Linked DNA regions of Homo sapiens. The protein of the gene in region 1 interacts with the protein of each later gene in a biochemical or structural test. Each region holds a gene or a part of one and is shown on either strand. Other genes may lie near its edges.

Evidence for each region.
Region 2: the proteins of TJP2 (region 1) and OCLN form a complex in vitro, tested with the Homo sapiens proteins (3 studies listed by BioGRID).
Region 3: the proteins of TJP2 (region 1) and CTNNA1 form a complex in vitro, tested with the Homo sapiens proteins (2 studies listed by BioGRID and IntAct, with this or other methods).
Region 4: the proteins of TJP2 (region 1) and CGN form a complex in vitro, tested with the Homo sapiens proteins (2 studies listed by BioGRID and IntAct, with this or other methods).

Annotation. Positions count from the first base shown.
Region 1 is NC_000009.12:69,169,883-69,177,305, reverse strand, and holds the start of TJP2 (tight junction protein 2), read right to left. Parts: upstream 3,030-7,423; 5' UTR 2,934-3,029; coding exon 2,874-2,933; intron 1-2,873. UniProt on the Homo sapiens protein: Plays a role in tight junctions and adherens junctions. Acts as a positive regulator of RANKL-induced osteoclast differentiation, potentially via mediating downstream transcriptional activity.
Region 2 is NC_000005.10:69,495,787-69,502,820, forward strand, and holds part of OCLN (occludin), read left to right. Parts: intron 1-7,034. UniProt on the Homo sapiens protein: May play a role in the formation and regulation of the tight junction (TJ) paracellular permeability barrier.
Region 3 is NC_000005.10:138,777,393-138,784,426, forward strand, and holds part of CTNNA1 (catenin alpha-1), read left to right. Parts: intron 1-4,530; 5' UTR 4,531-4,532; coding exon 4,533-4,637; intron 4,638-5,784; coding exon 5,785-5,980; intron 5,981-7,034. UniProt on the Homo sapiens protein: Associates with the cytoplasmic domain of a variety of cadherins. The association of catenins to cadherins produces a complex which is linked to the actin filament network, and which seems to be of primary importance for cadherins cell-adhesion properties.
Region 4 is NC_000001.11:151,535,377-151,539,216, forward strand, and holds the end of CGN (cingulin), read left to right. Parts: intron 1-223; coding exon 224-307; intron 308-403; coding exon 404-522; intron 523-860; coding exon 861-969; intron 970-1,353; coding exon 1,354-1,517; intron 1,518-1,828; coding exon 1,829-1,970; 3' UTR 1,971-3,316; downstream 3,317-3,840. UniProt on the Homo sapiens protein: Probably plays a role in the formation and regulation of the tight junction (TJ) paracellular permeability barrier.

The DNA.
Region 1 (7,423 bases):
AAACACCAGAGAAAACTGTTCTGCTTCCCTCCACTCCCATCTGGGGCAATCTCACCCTCAGACACTACCATATACCAAATCACCTTCTCTGGAAAATCAAGGCTGGTTGGTCCAACAACTGTTGGGCCCCTGATTACTGCTTAGAGTCAAATCAATGAGGCATGTTATTGGGAATCAGCTCTCAACCTAGATAAATTCATCTGTAGCCACAACTGCTTAATGGGATTCGTTCTAGAGATGAGGCAAGGAATTCCCTGGTGGCTCATATTGTTGGTAGAATATGTTGAAAGTTTCAGCAGTGATTGCGAACCCTTCTACCGCTTCACCCCGCCCCCACCACACCCAAACTTCATGCCTCTCCCCAACCAAGTCTGCATGACTTTTTAAATTACTATTTATATTACTACACATATTATTGTACACAGGACTAAAGTGGCCCCGCCTAGTTTCAATAACTTGTGTCTCGTAAAAAGATAACCTTCTTAAGGAGAGAAAACCTTGCTAAACTCAAAATCTCCCTTGCCTTCAGCAGTATGCAGAAAGTTCTCACACTTGTCCTGAAGAGAAATGGTTGGCTGTGAACTTTTGTCAGTGTACAAAGAACTAGATCAAAAGTTAAATGTAGGCAGAAGTCATTGCAAATGCAATTCCCCCGGGGGTGATGTAAAAATTCATTGGTCTTAAGCCTATGAATGCCTCAAAAATAGTTATGGGGTGGGATGTTTACTGGGAAACTGGTTCGCTTCTTTTGTAGGGAAAGTCAAGTCATTTAATACATGAGGGATTTCTGACTTCCCCCCACCCAAAGCTTCGTTATGGCCTTCAAGGCCTTTTAACAGAGTGTGAACAACAACTCTTTCAGTTTTTTCCTGGACACCTACCTGGCACCTCCTACTTGTATCTTTAGATCTCACCTCCCTTATCAACCCAGGACCCAACACTTAAGAGTTTTCAGCACCCGTTTTGTTCCTATTACTAGCTACCACCATTTACGTAGCATCCACCACATGCCTTGTACTCTCTGTCATTTCATTCAGACCTCACTCAGCCCGGTGAGGTGGGCGCATTACTGGCCCCATTTTCTATAGTGGCTTGCTCGGGTGAGGTAACTGTTCAAATGCCCTTTATTCCCAGCAAGAATCCCCTGAAGGGAATGCATATAGGACCAATCCCACTCTTTGCTAAATTTCTGTATTGCAGAGTGTGCATCGGCATCATACATTCCCTCCCTCAGTCTCAGGAATCCCGACACAGATTGCAGAGTAAAGTCTAACAGTTTCAGGTCCACTAGACCCCTAAATGCAGAAATTGAATCTTGTTCATCTTTGTATCCCCCACAGTGACTGGCAGGAGTAGGGGCTCATTCAGTATTATAATATCTGGATGGTACTGAAAAAGTTACAGCAGCATTTCAGAGGGGAAAGTTCCCCTTCATCAATCTGCATAAGTAGCTCTGAAAAGAAATAAAGTGGCCCCACTGCAGAAGTAGTTCTGAAAAAAACACAAGAAACACCTCAAAAGCCACCGGTGCTTTAGTAAAGCACCTCCGCTTCTGCCATCTCCCCACAATGAGGAAGCTCCAGTACCCTGTCCACATTTCTAAATGGCACTCATCGGATTCTTAATGAGTTGCAGGCTTTCCCAACGGGACTGTGTGACAGAGCCACGCTCTTGCTCATCTGCGTAATCCCCACACTGAAGTGGAGTTGTTCATGAAAACTTACTAAATAATCAAATTTCATCCTCTCAAGCAGGATATGCAGTGGTACTTTGCTACAAATACATTTACCACTACGAATTTCTCACTTCAAGCGATCTCCTGCCCAGGTGTGTGCTCTCAGAAAATTACATCTCTTTCTGAATTACGCTGGCAAAGGTGGACCTGTTTTCCCAAAAGGACCGTCAGCACACCCAGCACAGACCACCTGGGGAGCTGAAGAAAACGACCTCCCTCCCTCCTCCCCGCTGGGATTCCCCGGGCTGAGAGCGTGAGTGAGAAGCGCAAGGCAGTTTCTATCATGGGATGACTCTCCGCTGGGAACTTCAGGGAAACCACAACCATCATTACTCAGGCCAGACAGCTGCCAGAAAAGCAGCCTAGCCTAAGAACTGAAGCTGAAATAGAGGTGGGAGGCTGTATTCCATTACTAAGCGCGGGAGCACTCACTCCCAAGTTTGTCCACATTTCAAGAATGTTAAAACCCTGTGGTAGAAATCCCTGATTATTTATAACTTAAACTACCGTGTAAAAGCAGAAACTTGACAAATGAAGACATAAAAAGAACTGGTGACAGGTAGGCTAGTACTAGAATACAAAGCATTCATCACACTCCTCTTTTGTGGGTCCTTCCAAACCTCCATCCCCATTCCCTACTGGAAAAAAAAAAAAAAAAAAACAACTTTTACTTCTATTACAGACGCAGCTGATTGAAAGGGAAAAGGGATTCTGCTCTGTGATGAGTTTTCAGTTTCTCTCACGTACACAAGCCTGTAACTTTGCATCAATACCGAGTGTGGTTTGAAATAGAGAAGGAAAACACAAAGACATGCAAGCGACACAACAGACACGAGATGCCTCCAAGCCAGCAGAAATCCAGGACACCGGGTTCAAGACAGTGTCCCCTACTCGCGCCTTAATCTCCAGCCCAAGTGACTTCAGAGTAAAGGTTCCAGGAGCCCCGGAGGCCACGAGTCATCAGCCCGGACGGTGAAACCTACCCCTCCCCTGCGTCCCACGTCCGGATGGGAGAATCCCAGCTTCCTACGGCGCATCGGGGAACAACTTCAGAGCAGCACGCGAGCAGAGCCCCCAGCGCTCCCACGCTCACGCTCACGACCCTCCTCCCAACCGCGCGGCACAAGGAGGCACTTACGCGGAGCCAACCTGACAGCTCCCGCCGGGGTGGAAACCCGCGGTCTCCTCGCACCGGCATTTCGGACACAGGTCCCGCGTAGGCGCGCAGCTCCGGACCCCGCTTCTGCTTCTGCTCCTGCTCCTACTCCTCCTGGGCACCACCGGACAGTGCTCTGACCCGCAGCCCAACCGCCGGGGTGCCGACCCGCGGGGACCCACCCCTTTGTCCCTCCTCCCGCGGCGGCGGCGGCGTCAGCCCGCCCCCGACCCGAGCGTGGCGCCTCCGCGCTGGCCGCCCGGCCCGGGAAACTGTCAAATTGGCCGCTACCACCCACGCGCCTGCCGGGGAAGGGCTCGCCGGCGCCGCGCCTTCGAGGCTCCTGCGGCGAACCGCGTCACGCGCGACTCCTGGCCGGGGGCGGGAGGCGGCGGCGGCGGCAGGAGAAGCCCAAGGCCCGAGCGGCCCGCAGCCCCCACGCCTGCACCCCTCCACCCCCGCCAGCCCGATGGTTCGCTCCGCGGCGTGCACTGGAGCAAGCAGGTCCCGCTCCGAGCGCGCGCGCTCTGGGAAGTGCTGCAAGTTTGGAGACCTGGAGTGAGCTCCGGGCGCTGCTGGCCCGACTGTCCGCGGTGTTTCCCCGGTGAGGTCGCGGGGGCATCCTGTAGGAAGACTTTTTGGCGAGGTTCGCAGGGCCTCACACAGGCAGCTTCAGTTCTCCTACGAAGAGTCGAACTGGGAAAACCTCAAAGTTTTAGGTCCTGTCTAGAGGCCTGCCCGGCTAACCAACACATACACGGCCTTGTACCCCACATTTCTCAGCCCAACAACTGCCTACCCGAATTCCGAGGGTTATAAGATGTTCGTATTAAATATTAAAACAGGACTTTTCAGGACAATATATTCCAGGTTATCTCTTTGGCACATTTCCAACAACTCCAATAAAGAGATTGAAACTCCTCTCCCATCATCAGCTTATAAAAGGTTGCCAGTAGGTCACAAGTGCTTATCTGACAGGATTCATCTAATGCAATTCAGTGTGCTTATTCCTTTCGAAGTCCTCCATGTGCAAAGAATTGTGCAGTGACGTTAAGTGTCTTTATTTTAAGAGCATATAAATTAATTTGGAGAATCCAAACAGGTACCGATTAAAAATATAACCTTGGGTTTGAAATCTTAAAAAACCATCTTGTAAGAGAATAGTTTTGCCTGCCCTGCTCTTCCCTTAATTGGAAAGCAAAACTCGTCCTAGGCTCACAAGTAGAAGGTAAAAGGTGTGGTCTGTCCCAGAGGAGATGCAGATGCTGGGCTCTCTCCCTGAAAAGTTGCTTCACTTCCTGCCTGATCAAAACAAGTCTAGAAGTTTCGTGGAAAAACAAGTCCAGTAGATGCCTCTCCAGAAGTGTTATGCTTCTGGACTCCTTTGGAGTAACTAAGTCCACGCCTCTGGATAAAAAGCACTGTGAGTAACGTTTCCCACTTTGCCTCGAGTCTCCGGACTTAGACATTTTGGTTGTATTCCTGATGTAAGGCATTGCTCTCCTGATCTAAGCACCTATTTATAAAATGTTTCCCAAATCTGGCCAGGCACGGTGGCTCATGCCTGTAATCCCAGCACTTTGGGAAGGCAAGGCAGGAGAATCACTTGAGCCCACGAGTTTGAGACCAGTCTGGGCAACATAGTGAGACCCCATCTCTATTTTTTAAAAATTGTTTTAATCAAAAAAAAGGAAAAAAAAATAAAATATTTCCCAAATTAGGTGGTGCTGACTAATAAAAATGATAGCACTTGAAAGGTGGCCACACCTTAATGATGTGGGCTTAGAGCCACTAACATTTAAAAAATAATCCAGAATGTGGCAGTTACATCTACTGACTGATTTCCTTTTTTCTCTCTAGAGCGGCACTGTTCAATAAGATGACCACTTGCCACCAGTAAGTGTTTACATTTACATGTAAATTAACTAAAATTAGAGGAAATGACAAATTCAGTTCTTCAGTCACACTTGTCTCATTTCAAGGGCTCAGAAGCCACATGTGGCTAATAGCTACCCTATTGGACAGTGCAAATATAGAATATTTCCATCAATGCAGAAAGTTCTGTTGGACTGCACTACTCGAAATGATGAAATATTTATAGACAAACTCCATTCTTCTGGCACAACACCTGACAGATGATAAGCATTCAGTAAATGGTTGTTAGAAACACGGTTCAGTTGATATATTAGCTTTTTTGCTGGTGGCAGTGTAAATCAATACAACTCTTTGGAGAAACAATTTATTAGTCATCTTCTTCACGTGTGGGTTTGCACATTTTGACCCCACTCCTAGAATGTGTTTATCCAAAGAACTTCTACTCCGCAGGGCGCGGTGGCTCATGCCTGTAATCCCAGCACTTTGGGAGGTCGAGGCGGACAGATCGCGAGGTCAAGAAATCAAGACCATCCTGGCCAACATGGTGAGACCCCGTCTCTACTAAAAATAACAAAAATTAGCTGGGCGTGGTGGCGCACGCCTGTAGTCCCAGCTGTTCAGGAGGCTGAGGCAGGAGAATCGCTTGAACCCAAGAGGCGGAGGTTACAGTGAGACGAGATTGCACCACTGCACTCCAGCCTGGTGACAGAGCGAGATTCCGTCTCAAAAAAAAAAAAAAAAAAAAAAAAATTCTTCTACTCAACAGGTACTTACTGAACACCTCTGTCAACCCCTTGATAAAATACTCAGGATCCTGCCTTAGGAAACTCAGTCTATTGCAGTAGACAATCAACAAGTAATGATAAACTGTGTAAGCACTGAGATTCCTGGCAGGCTCAGAGTGGTCTAGCAGGAGAGACTTAGGGAAGGCTTTCCAGAGATGGGGTTGCTTATACATTCTAAAGGAGAGGTCGGAATGAGTTTTTAAGACACAAAGAAGGAAAAAAGCCTTCCAGGTAAGGGGAATAAATAACACAGAGAGAAGTAAGGAAGGAAGAGACAGCAGGCTTACTCTTGAGGTGCCAGAAGGTGAAGTTGCCCAGGCAAGTATAAAGATGGATTTGACAGTTGGTGGGGGACAGGGGTTGGTGGGGGAGGAGAATGTTAGTAAGAATGACAAGACCGGCCAAAAATGCATTTTTGTGGGAATGCAGGTGAGAGATGACGTGGCTATGAAGTTAGGCAGTGTTAGACAAAAGGGAGCCAGATTCTAGAGAAACTAAGGAAGTAGATCAGCAGGCTGGATGACTGCCTGACTAGATATGGGGAGACGCGAGCGGGAAGTGAGCCTACGCTGACTCTCAGGTTTCTGGCTTACTTAAAGGAGATGACGGTGGCTTTTATCAAAACAGAACACAGGAGTGGGAGCAGATCTTGGGAGGAGCTTGAAGAAAGATGATGAGTTTAGTTACAGACTGATTTTCAAGTGCTATGGGTCATCCAGGTGAAGATGTTCAGTAATTTAACAAATATGTATCAAGTGTCTCCTATGTGCTAGGCACTGATGAGTATTTGAGGAGAGAGATTTGGGAGTGATTTGGGTATCATCAATGTATCATAAAAGTTGAAGTCTTGGGAGGGGACAATCCCACATTCAGAGACGTGATGTAGATTAAGCCAAGAGAGGACTAAGGACAGGACTCATCTCTGGGAATGCCAATATTTAGGGGGCAGACTTGAGTTGCCAGAACAGAGACCAAAGAGGAGCTGCCAGAAAGGAAAGAAAACGCTTCTGGAGGAGAGTGTCCAAAAAGCCAAGGAAAGAACAAACTTCAGGAAAGAGGGAGAGGCCAACAACATGGAATTTCGAGGAGGTCAATTAAGGTAAGAACTGATGATGTTCATTAAGTGGAGGACCACTGCTTATCTTGGCCAGAGCTTTTCAATGGAAAGATACGACTGGAGGTTAGATTACAGTGGATGACTAGGTATGAGGCAGCACTTCACTATATGCCTGTATCTAATAATGAATGATGGAAACCACCAATGTCCAATGATGGTGGGCTGGGCTATTAAATTACAGTAAATCAACATAATTGGCATAGCAGACCATCATTTAAAATTGTAATAAGGAAGTCTATACAACAAGGAGAATGATAATGCTATAATTATCAACAAAAAAACACAAATTACATCTAATGTATGATGATGACAGTGATAAAATTATAAAAAAAATAAAAACTGGAAAGTATGCAAAAAAATGACTTCATGAAAAGACAGGCTTGTGCATATATTTTTCTTTTTAAATTTAGTTATTGTTTGTGCAATGGACAATTTTTTTCAACTTTTCAGTGTATATTACAATATATAAGGTCTCTGAAATAGGTTGGTCAGCTAGGTGCAGGGGCTCATGCTTGTAATCCCAGCACTTTGGGAGGCTAGACAGGAGGATTGCTTGAGCCTAGGGATTTGAGTCCAGCCTGGACAACATAGTGAGATTCTGTCTCTACAAAAACTAATAATAAAATAAAATTACCTGGGCATGGTAGCATGTGCCTGTAGTCCCAGCTACTCGAGGACTGAGGGGAGAGGATTGCTTGAGCCCAGGAATTTGAGGCTGCAGTAAGCTATGACTGCACCACTATACTGCAGCCTAG
Region 2 (7,034 bases), on another chromosome or scaffold:
AGTGAGGGACAGGGAGGGCATCTCCCAGAAGGTGACGTCTGAGCTGAGACCTGAACAGCAGGTGTCTGTTGTGTAAAAGATCTGGGCTTTCTAGACAGGAAATTGCAAGATCAATGTCCTTTTTGGATTGACACCTTTATTGTAGACAGCAATTCTCAAAATATGTGATGTGTTTAAAAATCACCTGGAAGATTTATTAAAAATACAATTTCTGACACAGAGTCTATTACAAAATCTGCCTAACTTCAAATTTTTAGACAATTTACTAATGATGTGCCTGTAGTCTAAATCATTTAATATAAGGCACAACTTAAACTTTTTTTTTTTTTTTTGAGACAGAGTCTCGCTGTCTCCCAGGCTGGAGTGCAGTGGCACGATCTTGGCTTACTGCAAGCTCCGCCTCCCGGGTTCACACCATTCTCCTGCCTCGGCCTCCCGAGTAGTTGGGACTACAGGCGCCTGCCACCATGCCCAGCTAATTTTTTGTATTTTTAATAGAGGCGGGGTTTCACTGTGTTAGCGGGGATGGTCTCGATCTCCTGACCTCGTGATCCTCCCGTCTCGGCCCCCCAAAGTGCTGGGATTACAGGCGTGAGCCACCGCGCCCGGCCACAACTTAAACTTTTTAAAGGCAAATTGACAGTTACTGCATGTGCTCTAAAAGGAACAGACTTCTCTTAAATACAATAAAGTTTATTTTTCACTTATTGACAGTTTTCTTTAAAGAATAATTTGAGGCCAAAGCATTTTCAGACTATTTTTTCTTTTTTTATACTTTTTTTTTTTTTTTTTTTTTAAGATAGATAACGGAGTCTTACTCTGTTGCCCAGCCTGATCTTGAAGTTCTGGGCTCAAACAATCCCTCTGCCTTGGCTTCCCAAAGTACTGGGATTACAAGTGTGAGCCACCTTGCCCAGCCTCAGCCTGTTTTTTTCATCTTAGCTTAGTTTTCCATTAAGACAGCTTTTGGTCAGTAAACATTGTCAAGGGGAGAACACTTTATATTTTATCATTAGCCCAAGATGCTGGTTTTCAGATTAACATATTTGACAAGGATCTATCTGCTGCTTCCCTTTTGCCCCCGACTCTAATTTAGCTGTCTGACTTCTGTCCTTGTCACTCTCCTGACATAAGTTCCTGTAGGTGATAAGTGGCCTCTTCATTCTCATTTTTTCCTTCACTCAACACATGTACAGATTGTTAATGTTGCTGTGCTGGGCATTGGTCCTCTTTCACCTTTGGCTGCTGGCCTTAAAGCACAGTCACAGATTCACTTTGAAAGAGACCTTAGAAGTCTTCCAGTCTGGTCTCCAAAAAAATATCAAATAACTTAAGCTTTGCATAAATTGCATGAGCTCAAATTGTTGTTAGTTATTTTCGGAGAGGGTGTGGGGTCAGGGTGAGGGAGAGGCTTCCTAACATTGAGATGAAATCAGCCTGTGGTTTTTGGAATTTTTTTTTTTTAACCATTTCTAGGATAACAAAGACAGCTCTTCATATATTTCAGGGCTGCTAAAGCGATTCTTCTGACGTTAAGTTCTCCAGGCCAAACATTTCCTGTTTTTCCAATCATTTGTCTTAAGACATGGTTTTTCTAGATTTTTTTTTTTTTTTTTTTTTGAGCCAGAGTCTCACTGTGTCGCCAGGCTGGAGTGCGGTGGCACAATCTTGGCTCACTGCAACCTCTGCCTCCTGGGTTCAAGCAATTCTCCTGCCTCAGCCTCCCAAGTAGCTGGGATTACAAGCACACACCACCATGCCCAACTAATTTTTGTATTTTTAGTAGAGACGAGGTTTCACCGTGTTGGCCAAGATGGTCTCGATCTCCTTGTGATCCACCCGCCTCGTCCTCCCAAAGTGCTGGGATTACAGGCGTGAGCCACGGTGCCTGGCCAGCTTTTCTAGATCTTTAATGATCTTAGTCACCCTCCTGGAGAGGCACATAGTTTAGAATGTGATGTACAAATCAGGTTTTGTTTGTTCTTTTTAATAGCATATTATTCCTAGATATGAGCACTATTTCTGTGAATAAAGTTTGGGATAGGTTGTTAGCTTTTGTTGAAATTCTTACCAAAGAAATGCACCTTTAAAAATGAACCACTTTGGGAGGCCGAGGCGGGCGGATCACGAGGTCAGGAGATCGAGACCATCCCGGCTAAAACGGTGAAACCCCGTCTCTACTAAAAATACAAAAAATTAGCCGGGCGTAGTGGCGGGCGCCTGTAGTCCCAGCTACTTGGGAGGCTGAGGCAGGAGAATGGCGTGAACCCGGGAGGCGGAGCTTGCAGTGAGCCGAGATCCCGCCACTGCACTCCAGCCTGGGCGACAGAGCGAGACTCCGTCTCAAAAAAAAAAAAGAACGATTATTAAATTAGTTCTCCTCTATACTGTACTATGGAATTGACTTTTTAAAAATTCAGTTTATGGCTGGGCATGGTGGCTCATGCCTGTAATCCCAGCACTTTGGGAGGCTGAGGTGGGTGGATCACCTGAGGTCAGGAGTTTGACACCAGCTTGGTTAACATGGTGAAACCCCGTTTCTACTAAAAATGCAAAAATTAGCCTGGCCTGGTGGCATGTGCCAGTAATCTCAGCTACTCAGGAGGCTGAGGTGGGAGAATTGCTTGAACCTGGGAGGTGGAGGTTGCATTGAGCCGAGATCACGCCATTGCATTCCAGGCTGGATGACAGAGCAAGACTCCTGTCTCAAAAAAAAAAAAAATCAGTTTACATTTTAAAAATGACTCATTTATGCCACCAATATAGTCACCCTTCAGTATCTGTGAGAGGTTGCTTCCAGGACCCCCATGATACTAAAATCTGAGGATGCTGAAGTCCTTGTTATAAAATAGCTTTGTATTTGCATATGGCCTAAATGCTCTTGTATACTTTTTTTTTTAATTGTTTTTTTGAGACAGAATCTCACTCCATCATCTAGGCTGGAGTGCAGTGATGCAATTTTGGCCCACTGCAAACTCTGCCTCCTGGGCTCAAGCGATTCTCCTGCCTCAGCCTCCTGAGTAGCTGGGATTACAGGCACCCGGCACAATCCCAGTTAATTTTTGTATTTTTAGTAGAGACAGGGTTTCACCATGTTGGCCAGGCTGGTCTCGAACTCCTGACCTCAAGTGATCCGCCCGTCTTGGGCTCCCAAAGAGCTGGAATTACAGGTGTGAGCCACTGCACCCAGACCTCTTGTAGACTTTAAATAATCTCTAGTTATAATACCGTATACAATGTAAATACTATGTAGAATTGTGATATTGTAGTTTTAAAAATCTATTTTTTGTTTTATTGTTTATTATTTTTTTAGACAGGGTATTACTGTTACTCAGGCTGGAGTATAGTGGCATGATCACTCCAGCCTCAACTTCCTCTGCTCAAGAGATCCTCCCATCTCAGTCTCTTGAGTAGCTGGAACTTACAGGGATGTGCCACCATGCCTGGCTAATTTTAAGAAAAATTTTTTGTGGAGATGGGGTCTTACTATGTTGCTGTGGTCAGTCTTGGACTCCTGGGTTCAAGTGATCTTCCTGCTTCAGCTTCCTAGAGTGTTGGGATTACAGGTGTGAGCCACTGTACCTGCCCTGTAATTTTTAATTTTTTTTTCCCCTGAATATTTTCTGTCTGAGGTTGGTTGAATCAGAATTTAAAACCCATGGATGTGGAGGGTCAGCTGTATTTGAAAATGGATACAATATACCTAAGTGCCTAAGCACTGAAATTTCTTACTTTCAGGATAACCACCTTATGATGAATGCAGTTGCCCATTTTCTTGAAGACTTTTTCTTGTGGTTTTTTTCTTTCTTTTTTTTTTGAGCCGGAGTCTCGCTCCGTCGCCAGGCTGGAGTGCAGTGGCGTGACCTCAGCTCACTGCAACCTCCTCCTCCTGGATTCAAGCGATTCTCCTGCCTCAGCCTCCTGAGTAGCTGGGGCTACAGGCGCGCGCCACCAAGCCCAGCTAATTTTTGTATTTTTTTAGTAGAGACAGGGTTTCACTATGTTGACCAGGATGGTCTTGATCTCTTGACCTCGTGATCCACCCGCCTCGGCCTCCCAAAGTGCTGGGATCACAGGCGTGAACCACTGCGCCCAGCTCTTTAAGACTTTTTCTTATCCCAGTGCAGAGGTCAGGATTATTCCCGCATTTGAGTGCACTTAGAGGAGATAAGGAATTTGTCTCAGATTGCGAGCCAGTAAATGGGGGCTGTTAAAACCACTAGGTTGTTTCAAACTCATCATTCTGACATTACAGAGATCTTGCTTAGTGTTGATGGCCCTAGCCAATGGGTTAGTTATCCTTTCCAGTGTGTTTGGTCAGCTGCAAATCTGGATAAGCGTGTCTCCTCCACTTTGTCTGTGTTTACCAGTGGAGACCTCCCACCAGGTGGACATAAATGGTTCATTCTTTTGTGCTAATTGGGTGCCGTAATCCAGCCCCTTGGGAATCTGCCCACCCACACAAGGATGTGCTCAAGATTTTCAGGATTCTTTCTCTCTGCATTCCCTGAAGAGGAAATAATAAAGGAGAAAATAAAATCCACCAGTTTGGTAACCTTCCCAGAAAAGGAAATGAAGTTGGTGTGGCATGACTTGTTCTTAACGAGCTTTCTTTTCTTTTTTTTTTTTTTGAGACGGAGTTTTGCTCTTTTTGCCCAGGCTGGAGTGCAATGGCGCAATACTGGCTCACTGCGAACTCCGCCTCCCAGGTTCAAGCAATTCTGCTACCTCAGCCTCCCAAGTAGCTGGGTTTACAGGCATGCACCACCACGCCCCTCTAATTTTTTGTATTTTTAGTAGAGATAGGGTTTCACCACATTGGTCAGCTGGTCTTGAACTCCAGACCTCATGTGATCCACCTGCCTCGGCCTCCCAAAGTGCTGGGATTACAGGCATGAGCCACATGATTTGGTTCACAATTTAAAATCCGTGCTTTTGGGGAGACGTGACAACTCTGAATCCTGGAAATAGCAGTTTGAAAAGGGATCTTGTTTGAATTTTTGACAACTTAAGACTGAGTCTGGATTAATTTAGAGTTTCCAAAACTACCACTGAACCTAGAATTTGGGGATATTTGACATTCAGCTTCAGAACTAGGATCCCACATTTAATAGTGCTTAACTTCAGATTTTCTGTTTTACTTTTTTTTTTTAAAGGAGTCTTGCTCTGTCACCCACGCTGGAGTGCAGTGGCACAATCTTGGCTCACTGCAACCTCCACCTCGGGCTCAAGCGATTCTCATGCCTCAGTTTCTCAAGTAGCTGGGATTACAGGCACGTGCCACCATGCCCAGCTAATTTTTGTATTTTTAGTAGAGACGGGGTTTTGCCATGATGGCCAGGCTGGTCTCGAACTCCTGACCTAGGGTGATCCACCTGTCTCCACCTCCCAAGTGCTGGAATTACAGGTGTGAGCCACCTCACCTGGCCTAAATTCAGTATTCCTTAATGTTCTTTTTCTGAAGACAATCTGGACTTTTGCCTTTTTATAGTACCATAACATTTTCGCCTAAATTGCTCATTTGTATGTGTGTTTCACCATTACTAGAATATAGAGAAATTGGCCAGGTGTATTGGCTCATGCCTGTAATCCCAGTACTTTGGGAGGCCAAGGCAGGTGGATAGCTTGAGCTCAGGGGTTTGAGACCAGCCTGGGCAACATGGTGAAACCTTATCTCTACTAAAAATACAAAAATTAGCCAGGCGTGGTGGCATGTGCCTGTAGTCCAGCTACTTGTGAGGCTGAGGCAGGAGGATTGCTTGAGCCTGGGAGGCAGGTTGTAGTGAGCTGAGATGATGGCACTGCATTTCATCCTGGGCAACAGAATGAGACCTTGTCTCAAAAGAAAAAAAAAAAAAGTATAGAGAAATTGACTTGAGTGCTAGTTACAGGGCTGTGTACACTTATGATTTGTGCACTTTTCTCTATGGTATACTTTAAAAGTGGCTTTTAAAAATGTAGAAAAGTCATCTTCCTTCATGTCTTTGGAAAATTATGCTAATTGTGTTGGTGTTATTAACATTCTATATATTTCCATCTTTGAGGATTTATCTAATACATAGTTGGGCAGGGTTTAATTCTGAGAGATTTGAAATACACTGTCCTAAAGGGTATAGAAGAGAGTTGCCAGGTGGGGCGTGGTGGCTCATGCCTGTAATCCCAGCACTTTGGGAGGCCAAGGAGGGCAGATTGCCTGAGCTCAGGAGTTTGACACCAGACTGTGCAACATGGTGAAACCCCATCTTTACTAAAAATACAAACAATTAGCCGGGCGTGGCAGCGTGCGCCTGTAGTCCCAGCTACTCGGGAGGCTGAGGCAGGAGAATCGCTTGAAGCCGGGAGGCGGAGATTGCAGTGAGCTGAGATCATGCCATTGCATTCCATCCTGGTGACAGAGCGAGACTCGGCTCAAAAAAAAAAAAAAGAGTTGCCATTAATTTAAAAAAAAGTTTTAAGAGTCTGAATTGATGTACTGTTGTTAATATATTAATGTATGATTGTACAGACCGTATTAGAAAAGGAAAAAAAATCAGATACTTTAATGTACTCATTATAGATGTTACTCAAGTGTCATTCAGGGATCATACCTTTTAAAGTTACTCTGATACTTTTCCGTTACCTTCAACTTGAAAGCACAAGAGGTTTTGCAGGCAGAGATATCCATGGTCCAATCTGGTTCCTGTAAACATTCAACAAATTATCTGGACGTCTACTATGTGCCAGGCATTGATTTAATCAGTGAACAAAACATGCAAAAATTCCTGCTCACATGGAATTTACCTTCCAGTAGATCTCAAAGTTCCCTACTCTACTAATCACTGGTATAACCTGGAAAGAATTTATTGTTGGTTCAACATAGCTAAGGAGTGGCATGAAGTTCTGTAGCTGATGTGGGAAGTACCTTGCCAGTGTCTCCAGCACTGGGTTTTCTAGAATAATCCTCAAGCTTTATAGGTTAGGGGGTTGTGTGTTTACCACATCTTGCTGAGACTTGTCTTTTTCCTGGAGAGCTCTCAGTGCCCATGGATCCACCT
Region 3 (7,034 bases), on another chromosome or scaffold:
GGCTCCTCACGTCCCAGACGATGGGCGGCCAGGCAGAGACGCTCCTCACTTCCCAGACGGGGTGGCGGCCGGGCAGAGGCTGCAATCTCGGCACTTTGGGAGGCCAAGGCAGGCGGCTGGGAGGTGGAGGTTGTAGCGAGCCGAGATCACGCCACTGCACTCCAGCCTGGGCACCATTGAGCACTGAGTGAACCAGACTCCGTCTGCAATCCCGGCACCTCTGGAGGCCGAGGCTGGCGGATCACTCGCGGTTAGGAGCTGGAGACCAGCCCGGCTAACACAGTGAAACCCCGTCTCCACCAAAAAAATACAAAAACCAGTCAGGCATGGCGGTGCGCGCCTGCAATCACAGGCACTCGGCAGGCTGAGGCAGGAGAATCAGGCAGGGAGGCTGCAGCGAGCTGAGATGGCAGCAGTACAGTCCAGCTTCAGCTCGGCATCAGTGGGAGACCGTGGAAAGAGAGGGAGAGGGAGACCGTGGGGAGAGGGAGAGGGAGAGGAGGGAGAGGGAGAGGAGGGAGAGGGGGAGGAGGGAGAGGGGGAGGAGGGAGAGGGGGAGGAGGGAGAGGGGGAGGGGAAATGTTTCTTAATCTGTCTTTTTTTTTTTTTTTTTTTTTTTAAACAGAGTCTTGCTCTGTGGCCCAGGCAGGAGTGCAGTGGCACCATCTCCACTCACTGCAAGTTCTGCTCCCCCAGGTTCATGCCATTCTCCTGCCTCAGCCTCCCGAGTAGCTGGGACTACAGGCGACCGCCACCACGCCCGGCTAATTTTTTGGTATTTTTAGTAGAGACGGGGTTTCACAGTGTTGACCAGGATGGTTTCGATCTCCTGAACTCGTGATCCACCCGCCTTGGCCTCCCAAAGTGCTGGGATTACAGACGTGAGCCTCCGCGCCCGGCTGCTTTGACATTTTTCAAGACTACAGCCAGTTATTTTGTAGATCGTCTCACGCTTTGAATTTGATGTTGCCTCATGACTAGTTGAGGTTATGTAATTTTCAGGCGAAATAACACAGAGGTGATGTTGTATCCTTCTCAGTGCATCGTGTTAGGAGATACGTGATGTGGGTTTGTGTCCTTATTAGGGACAGTAATTTTGATTACTTGGTTAAGGTGGCATCTCAGGTTTCTGGACTGTGAAGTTACTATTTCCCCCATCTGTCATAAATAAATAATCTGTTGGGAGTTACTATGACACTAGATCACGCTACTGAGAAACTGAATGCTAATCTACTTGGTTAGCATTCTTTGATTCTTGCCTGAGGCAATTAATATTATGGTTCCTGAATGCTGATTTTTCTAAATACATTGTTCTTTCTACATTTATTAGTTTGTTTCCTATTGTTTGGAAGAACTTTTCCTTCTTTATTCATATTAGCATGGACTCATGCATTAGTCAATGGATCATACTTTGTTCTATCTAATCTCCACTAAAGCTCTCTGAAGAAGGCAGTGGTTGGTAGTCTTTTATGAGGGATCTAGTTCAAAGTTACGTTTTTTTTTTGAGATGGAATCTTGCTCTGTTGCCTAGGCTGGAGTGCAGTGGCATGATCTCGGCTCATTGCAACCTCTGCCTCCCAGGTTCCAGCGATTCTCCTGGCTCAGCCTCATGAGTAGCTGCGATCACAAGCAACCGCCACTACGCCTGGCTAATTTTTGTATTTTTAGTAGAGAGAGGGTTTCACCACATTGGCCAGGCTGGTCTCGAACTCCTGACCTCAGGTGATCCACCCACTTTGGCCTCCCTAAGTGCTGGAATTACAAGCATGAACCACCATGCCTGGCCAGTTTTCACCCAGTAGTTTTGACATTCATTGCTAATCCTTGGCTGGATCAGTTTTTACCAGTGGGGGTTGCAAGATGGTCATTTTCTAATTCTATTCTAGATTCATGGTAAAGAAATTCCCTCCCCATACCCTTTCTTTTGAGGATCCCTATGGTCTTAAGGATATTTATTTAATTATTTAGTTACAGACAGTTACAGTCATTATTCTCTTTGATAGTTGTCCTAAATTTGGCTGATGGGAGCCCTTGCTTCCTGTGTCTTTTGATATGATCTTGTTAGTCTTGTCCCCTTTCCGCACAATACAGTGCTTCAGACCTGGAACTTTGGTTTCTATTAATGGGAAATGGTCCGTTTTTTAAAAAAAAAATAAGTAGAAATGGGATCTCTCTGTGTGGCCCAGGCTGGTCTCAAACTCCTGGGCTTAAGTGATCCTCCTGCCTTGGCCTTCCAAAGTGCTGGTATCACAGGCATGAACCACCATGCAAATGGTATTTAATAGAAATAAATACTTGGGCACTGATAACACTGGTTTTTTTTTGTTTTTGTTTTTTTTTTGAGACAAGAGCTTGCTCTGTTGCCCAGGCTGGAGTGCAGTGGTGCGATCTTGGCTCACTGCAACCTCCACCTCCCAGGTTCAAGTGGTTTTCCTGCCTCAGCCTCCTGAGCAGCTGGGATTACGGGCGTGTACCACCACACTGGACTAATTTTTGTAGTTTTAATAGAGACGGGGTTTCACTATGTTGGCCAGGCTGGTTGTTTTGTTTTTTAATTTGCCAACATTGTTTTTAAGAGTAACATTGTAGCCCGTTGTGTCATTGTTACATAATTTATTGAGTGATCTGTTGTTTGAAATTTAGGTAATTTATAACTTTTAATGTTTATATAAAGCAGTGTTGTGAACATCATTGTATCCCAGTTTTTACATGTTCCTTAACTTTAGAATAAGATTTTAGCAGTAGATTTTCTGGGTCATACAAATGTACTTTTTAAAGATTTTATTTTATTTATTTATTTTATTTTTTATTTTTTTGAGACGGAGTCTTGCTCTTTCGCCCAGGCCGGACTGCAGTGGCGCTATCTCTGCTACTGCAAGCTCCGTCTCTGGGGTTCACGCCATTTTCCTGCCTCAGCCTCCCGAGTAGCTGGGACTACAGGTGCCCGCCACTGCGCCTGGCTAATTTTTTTTTTGTATTTTTAGTAGAGACTGGGTTTCACCGTGTTAGGCAGGATGGTCTCAATCTCCTGACCTCATGATCTGCCCGCCTCAGCCTCCCAAAGTGCTGGGATTACAGGCGTGAGCCACTGCGCCTGGCCAAGATTTTATTTTTTTAATTTTTATTATTATTATTATTTTTTAAGATGGAGTTTTTTTCTTGTTGCCCAGGCTGGAGTGCAATGGCACAATCTCGGCTCACTGCAGCCTCTGCCTCCCGGGTTCAAGCGATTCTTCTGCCTCAGCCTCCCGAGTAGCTGGGATTACAGGCGTGCACCACCAGCCTGGCTAATTTTGTATTTTTAGTAGAGACAGGGTTTATCCTTGTTGGTCAGGCTGGTGTCGAACTCCCGACCTCAGGTGATCTGCCCGCCTTGGCTTCCCAAAGTGCTGGGATTACAGGAGTGAGCCACCACGCCCAGCCTTTAAGCTTTTAAATGTCTACCAGCAGTTTGTTGTCTAGAAAGTTTATATTAGTGTTTACCTCAGCTTCATGCCTTTTCTTTTCTTTTTTTCTTTAATAATTGAAGGCACTACTTTTAGAAGAAAAGACTAACTGTTATTTTCGTTGATGTTTTCTCCCTATTCTTAAAGCCGCTGTCTGACAGAAGTTTCTCTTGACACTGATACAGTGATATTTGACTAAGTGTGATTTGAAATTTCTTCTGGCTATGAGTGATAATAGCTGTGGGTGCAGAGGGCAGCTGATTTAAACATTATGTTTTAATAGAATAAGACAAGTCCTTCTCTAGGAATCCATCAAAAAATGAAGTGAAGCATACCTTTTAGATACTACTGTACCATGAATGTTGTGGAGTAGGAAAAATCAGGATCTTCTGTATTCGTTTTTGAAGCAGTGTCTTTGAAAGTAGCTTTTGGCCGGGTGCGGTGGCTCACGCCTATAATCCCAGCACTTTGGGAGGCCGAGGCAGGTGGATCATGAGGTCAGGAGATCGAGACCATCATATCCTGGCTAACACGGTGAAACCCCGTCTCTACTAAAAATGCAAAAAAATTAGCCGGGCGTGGTGGCGGGCCCCTGTAGTCACAGCCACTTGGGAGGCTGAGGCCAGAGAATGGCGTGAACCCAGGAGGCGGAGCTTGCAGTGAGCTGAGATCCACCACTGCCCTCCAGCCTGGGCGAAAGAGCAAGACTCTGTCTCAAAAAAAAAAAAAAAAAGAAAGTAGCTTTCATTCACTTTAGCTTTTCATCTTGTTTCTAAAGGTGGGGCAGATAAAGTGAGTAGGAACTGAGGTAGGAAGTCTTGGTGCTAGAGAAGCCCAAAGGGAAACATTCTGTGTGTTTGGGAATGCCCTCTTGTAGTACCCCTCCTATTTGTAAGCCTGAAATCATTAAATATTAAGAGGTTGTAAGGTTTACTGGGTCTTCATGTGTAGGCTAGTTAGAATTTTTTCATCTATAGTGAATATAGCTTTCCTGATGCAAAAGTCCCAAAGTAGGAGAAGATTTGTTACATATTTCATGTTTGTGTTTGATGTTTGCCTGACTGACTTTTTGTTTCTTATTTAGAAATGACTGCTGTCCATGCAGGCAACATAAACTTCAAGTGGGATCCTAAAAGTCTAGAGATCAGGACTCTGGCAGTTGAGAGACTGTTGGAGCCTCTTGTTACACAGGTAAGAATCTGAAAACACAAATACATTGTAACATGGTTCTATAGCACAGGCCTGGGTAACAACCATAAGAGCAAGGTTATTTAGTTCAAAGCCTTAATTCCAGTACTTGAGTTTAGGTGACAGTTCTTAGATGATTTGAATATTGATGCATGGGTTTAGTTAACCCTTGAGAACGCTGCTGCTGTCGTTTTCTTCAGTCTTATTGCTAGTAACGGGTCCATGGTATGTAGTGCAACTTTGCAAATGTTTGTGCTTTGCAGATACTTCACCTTTCTTCAGAGGGGAAACCCAAGAAAGGTGGAGTCTGGATCCTTGATTGTTAAGGTCTCTCACTCTGCTTAACACACCTTTCATTGTGTGGGATTAATTAGCAGGTAATTCAACTTGAGGGTTTAGGTTTGGTATGCTACAAATGTCACAATGTTAGGGTAGTTCATAAACTGTTAGCAACTAGCTGTGTACTTTTAGTGTTTTACAATAGTATGTCTATTGTTTGTATGTGAGAGATTCAGAGAGAGAGAGAGAAAATGAGTCTTGTTTGGCAAATTTACACTATAACATATATTCATCATCTTTAACCTAGAGATAATCTGGTATTATGTGTATTAATGATGGTAATGTTCTAAGACATAAAGCGTCATCACTGTAGGCTTCTTTGGGCAATCATTCGTTTATTGGGACCTTTACTAATTGCTGAGATTTGTGTGAATAAACTGTCAAAAGACTTCAGAAGCAAATTATCTTAAAATGTTTTGCAAAGTTTGAAAACAGTGGCAGTGTGATCTCCAGATAAAGCTAAGTTCATTGTTAACCTCTTTCTGGAACATCTTGGTGACATATAGTAGAGACATCTAACTTGTCTCTAATCATTTTTTAATTTGTAAAATCAAACTAAAAACCTAATGATCATATTTGAGAAATTAAAATATGTGTTAAATAATTCTCTGTACACATTAAGAAAGCTGAATTATTTTGGAAATTAAATATAGCATCATTGCTGTATATCTTAAATATGGGGAATTGTATGTTAATGTTCAGTGGAATCTCATGTGATTTTTTAAAAGAATAACTTAATCTTGCTGTCTTTAAAGATATTAGTTTGTCATTTTAATTGACTCCAGTTTAATGTTAAAAATGAAACTTTTAGGTTACAACCCTTGTAAACACCAATAGTAAAGGGCCCTCTAATAAGAAGAGAGGTCGTTCTAAGAAGGCCCATGTTTTGGCTGCATCTGTTGAACAAGCAACTGAGAATTTCTTGGAGAAGGGGGATAAAATTGCGAAGGAGAGCCAGTTTCTCAAGGAGGAGCTTGTGGCTGCTGTAGAAGATGTTCGAAAACAAGGTAGGTCATTACTGCTTTTTAGGTAAAGAGAGGCAGGCCTTTCTAGAAAATCAGTGTTTGAAGATTTTTTTTGTGGTCAGTATTCTCATTCTTATGCTTGCCAATTGCTCAGTAACTTACTTAGTTATTGGAGATGTATTAAGTTGGACTGGCTCATATTTTAATTCTCATTCTTATGCTTGCCAGTTGCTCAGTAACTTAGTTATTGGAGATGTATTAAGTTGGACTGGCTCATTTTAATCATGAGAGATGCTTGCAGAGGGACATCTGGAGAATCTGAATCCACTTCTCTTGGGTATTTCAAGTAATAGTTAAGTCTTAGAAATGTTGTAACACAAATTGATAGGAAAGAAATGGGACCGAAGTTTACTTTTCATCCTGTGTAATACTTCTTTTTAGTTCATGCTGAAGAGATGGGTGTGATAAAATGGAAAAATATCTACCTACTCTGAAAATACTCTAGAAATTGTCCTATTGTGTCAGAATAGTATGTTAAATCAGCCATGCATATTTGAACTGGTTGGAGCTTGACATAAATCTGGGTATAAAGGAATCATGTTTTGGGAAATTCAGAATTGATAAAAAGTAAAATGGTAATCCACAGTTTACTAATAATTAATGCTAGAAAAATTGTCCTTATTATGTTACAAATGTGGAAGGAAGACTTTAAATACGGAAGATAAACTTCTTGAAACCTGCAGTTTTTATTTTTAGTAGAGATGGGGTTTCACTAGTTGCCCAGGCTGGTCTCAAACTCCCAAGCTCAAACAATCCGCCTGCCTCGGCCTGCCAGAGTGCTGGGATTGCAGGCATGAGCCACAGTGCCCGGCCTTGAAACCTGTAGTTGTGTGTTAGGTTTCTTTTCCAGTCGGAGAATTTCAACAATGATGTAGGTTTTTTAGGTTATTGGATATCAGCTAAGGTAAATCGAGCCCTGCTATTTACAGGTGCTTTACTAACCCTTGGGAGAACTTCATAGATCTTTCGTGCCTGATGGTAGATTGCATAGTCCAGAGTCTTATGTCAAATTCATCCCTGTGGCAGTACCCATAAA
Region 4 (3,840 bases), on another chromosome or scaffold:
TTCTTTGGTTTACAAGGGATACTAGTTCCTGGAGGGACGAAGGAGGCTCTGTTTGCATTCTCTGGCCCCTCCCATTTGAATAGGCTGTGATTTTTTAGTTGCCTGGGAATTTTTGGATTCAGGGTTCAGAGACCATCCTCCCATGACTCAGCCTCACTTTGTTCAGCTTGCTGGTTCATCCTTAGCCCTCCCCAAGTCTGGTCCTCTCACCCATCCCCACTAGGTGGATCAGCTGAGGACAGAGCTCATGCAGGAAAGGTCTGCTCGGCAGGACCTGGAGTGTGACAAAATCTCCTTGGAGAGACAGGTGATGGGGGAGGGGAGGATTCTTAGGGATGGACCCCAGGAGGTGAGTAAAATGGCCAGTGGAGTGCTAACTGTGGAGGCTTCCTGTCCCTCTCAGAACAAGGACCTGAAGACCCGGTTGGCCAGCTCAGAAGGCTTCCAGAAGCCTAGTGCCAGCCTCTCTCAGCTTGAGTCCCAGAATCAGTTGTTGCAGGAGCGGCTACAGGCTGAAGAGAGGTGACATAAGCCTATCCTTCCTCCCTTCCTCCCTCCTTTTCTTCCTCCCTCCCTCTTGGCTTTTCTCCTCTGTGGCTCCCTCCATCTTCCACCTCAGATATGGCCAGCCTGGCCTGATCTTTAGGGAACACTTTCTCCTGATAGAGAGCAAAGAGTGTTGCAGAAATTCTGAAATGTGAATGACGTCACTCTCCCTCATTCTTTGAATCTGCCCTGGATCCTGCCCAGTCTAATGGTGGAGCTCATGGCTGAGAGGAGTCCTTGGGGACAGTAGGGGGCCAAGTTAGGATTCCCTTAGAAATGGGGACACTCATAGACATTCTTCTACCTCACCTTAGGGAGAAGACAGTTCTGCAGTCTACCAATCGAAAACTGGAGCGGAAAGTTAAAGAACTATCCATCCAGATTGAAGACGAGCGGCAGCATGTCAATGACCAGAAAGACCAGGTGAGGACATGGCACCCTGGAGCCAAGCAACCTGGGGCAGGTATATATTATATGTTTTCCTGAAAGCCAAGGGAGGCCCTTATCTCCTATAGGTCCTCCAAACTTAGACTTTCCTTGTATAAGGACAGAGATTAGATTGAAAAGACTAGACTAGAGAAGTCATGGTAAGCGTATATATTGAGTGCTTATGATGTGCTAGGTTCTGTAAGTATTACACATGTGTTAATACATTTAATCCCTAAGACAACCATGTGAGGTTAAGGAACTTGCCCAAGGCCACATTTTTCCAGCGGCAATTATACCTTGTCAAGATTGTTATGGGGGAGGGTCCCAGGCCATGGTAGTAGATGCTATTCAGATGTGTGGACTTGGTATCCTGCCCAGCTAAGCCTGAGGGTGAAGGCTTTGAAGCGTCAGGTGGATGAAGCAGAAGAGGAAATTGAGCGACTGGACGGCCTGAGGAAGAAGGCCCAGCGTGAGGTGGAGGAGCAGCATGAGGTCAATGAACAGCTCCAGGCCCGGATCAAGTCTCTGGAGAAGGACTCCTGGTATGGGCTACCCTTTTGCCCTTGCTCCATAGGGACACTAGAGCAGGGAGGGAATGGTCTCTCCTGTGCTGGATAAGGAGGAGAATCTCTAACATGGTACTGTGTAGTCACTTGTTTCTGGTTGGAAGCCAGTATATTTATTTATTAGTATCTCAGCCACCATCCTGTACCTCCCCAAATCTGATTAGTTGGGGATTTTGTGAATAAACTTTAGGCCTTAGAAGAATTGGGGTTTCCTTTGTACAAAAAGGGTGGCTGTCTTAATATTTCTATTTTCCCCTCCCCAACCATTATTCTTCTCTCTGAGTCAGGCGCAAAGCTTCCCGCTCAGCTGCTGAGTCAGCTCTCAAAAACGAAGGGCTGAGCTCAGATGAGGAATTCGACAGTGTCTACGATCCCTCGTCCATTGCATCACTGCTTACGGAGAGCAACCTACAGACCAGCTCCTGTTAGCTCGTGGTCCTCAAGGACTCAGAAACCAGGCTCGAGGCCTATCCCAGCAAGTGCTGCTCTGCTCTGCCCACCCTGGGTTCTGCATTCCTATGGGTGACCCAATTATTCAGACCTAAGACAGGGAGGGGTCAGAGTGATGGTGATAAAAAAAAAAAATCATCAGCAATAAGCTGATAGATGGACTTTCCACTGTAGGAGTGGACATTTCAAGCCAACTGAGCCTTTTCCTCAAGTGCCGACACCTCCCTCATCTCTCTTATAGTGGAAGGATGGTCAGCATTAGGCTGATGGGGACTGAGAAGGATAGGAAGGGATAGAAATTGCCATGTGTATAAAGCTTTATTCTTTAGCCCTTAACCCTAAGGCTCAGGGAAATACCCTATGTTATTGTGCTCCCTGGATTCCTGCAACTCATTTTCCTTCCACTCTGGAGCAGGGTGAGGGGAATGTTATGGGTAACAGACATGCAGGCATGGCTCTACCCATTTCTTTGCACAAGTATGGGGCCCATGTGGTAGTCCCCATACCCCTCCAGTTCCTATATTTTTGTCTTCTTCCTTTCCCCTCTTTGCCATTCCTACCTTGCATTTTTCCTGTCAGTGCCTTAGCCAAGGCAAGGAGATAAGGATGCTCTTCTTGCTTTTTATATCTGCACATTCATACCTCTCCAAAGACCAGCTTTTCCCCAGCCAGGGCCCTCAGCCTTCCCTGCTGCCCCAGTGATTGATTGAGAGAGCTGTTGGGGTTTCTCTGCCAATGACCCCTGGGAGAGGGACTTTGGTAGGGTCATGATAAAGTGGCGGGGGTCTGGTCCTGCTCAGGGTTTTCATCCTTCCTCCTCTCCCTCCTCTGTGACTGTGGATATGGTTATAAGGTGGTTGCACCTGGGAGCCCTGACAACTGGCTGCACAAATTCCAAAAGTAAAGGTGTCAGTCCCTGTGGCCTTCCTTGGGGCTTCTCTGACCACATGTGCCCAACTTCAATAAGAGAACCAAGGGACCCTCATTTTCTGAGGTGCTTGGCTCTGATTCAGGGCTTTGCAAGGGGTTAGAAGCTGACTGTAAAAATGGGAAGAGGCAACGGAAGACATTTATTTCTCCTTTGGATTTTGGGGAGAACCAAGCCCTGGTAGGGAAGAGGTAAGGGGGATGATTCACCTCCATATTTCCTAAGCAGGTTGTATAGGGAGCCGGTGGCAGGAGGAAGGCTGTTTTCACAAATGACTTGTAATGTCGTGATTAAAAAAATTCCTATATTCTTCTGCAAATCAAACGTTCTTTCCCAATCCAATCCAGCCTTGGTTTTATTTTAAATTAAATATTAAAATTACACATTTATATTGAAATCCTTGGTTTGTCTTCTCATTCTTTTTCTTGGCATATTTGGAGGTCCAGATTTTATGAAGTCATATTAACTGTACAGCTTAGGAGCCGAAGCTGGAGTTTTCTTCACCTGACTTTTCAGAGGCCCTTTAGAACAGAGCAGATGGGACCTACGAAACCTGGAGATGTTTATAGCAGCCCCATTCTCTTCTCTCCTGAACAACCTTCTGGGAAGAACAAGGACAGTAAATGCCTTTTTTTTTTTTTTTTTTTTGAGACGGAGTCTCACTCTGTCACCCAGGCTGGAGTGTAATGGCATGATCTCAGCTCACTGCAACCTCTGCCTCCCGGGTTCAAGCGATTCTCCTGCCTCAGCCTCCTGAGTAGCTGGGATTACAGGCGCGTGCCTCCACACCCAGCTAATTTTTGTATTTTTAGTAGAGATGGCGTTTCACTGTGTTGGTCAGGCTGGTCTCAAACTCCTGACCTTGTGATCCGCCCACCTCGGCCTCCCAAAGTGGTGGGATTACAGGCATAAGCCACTGCG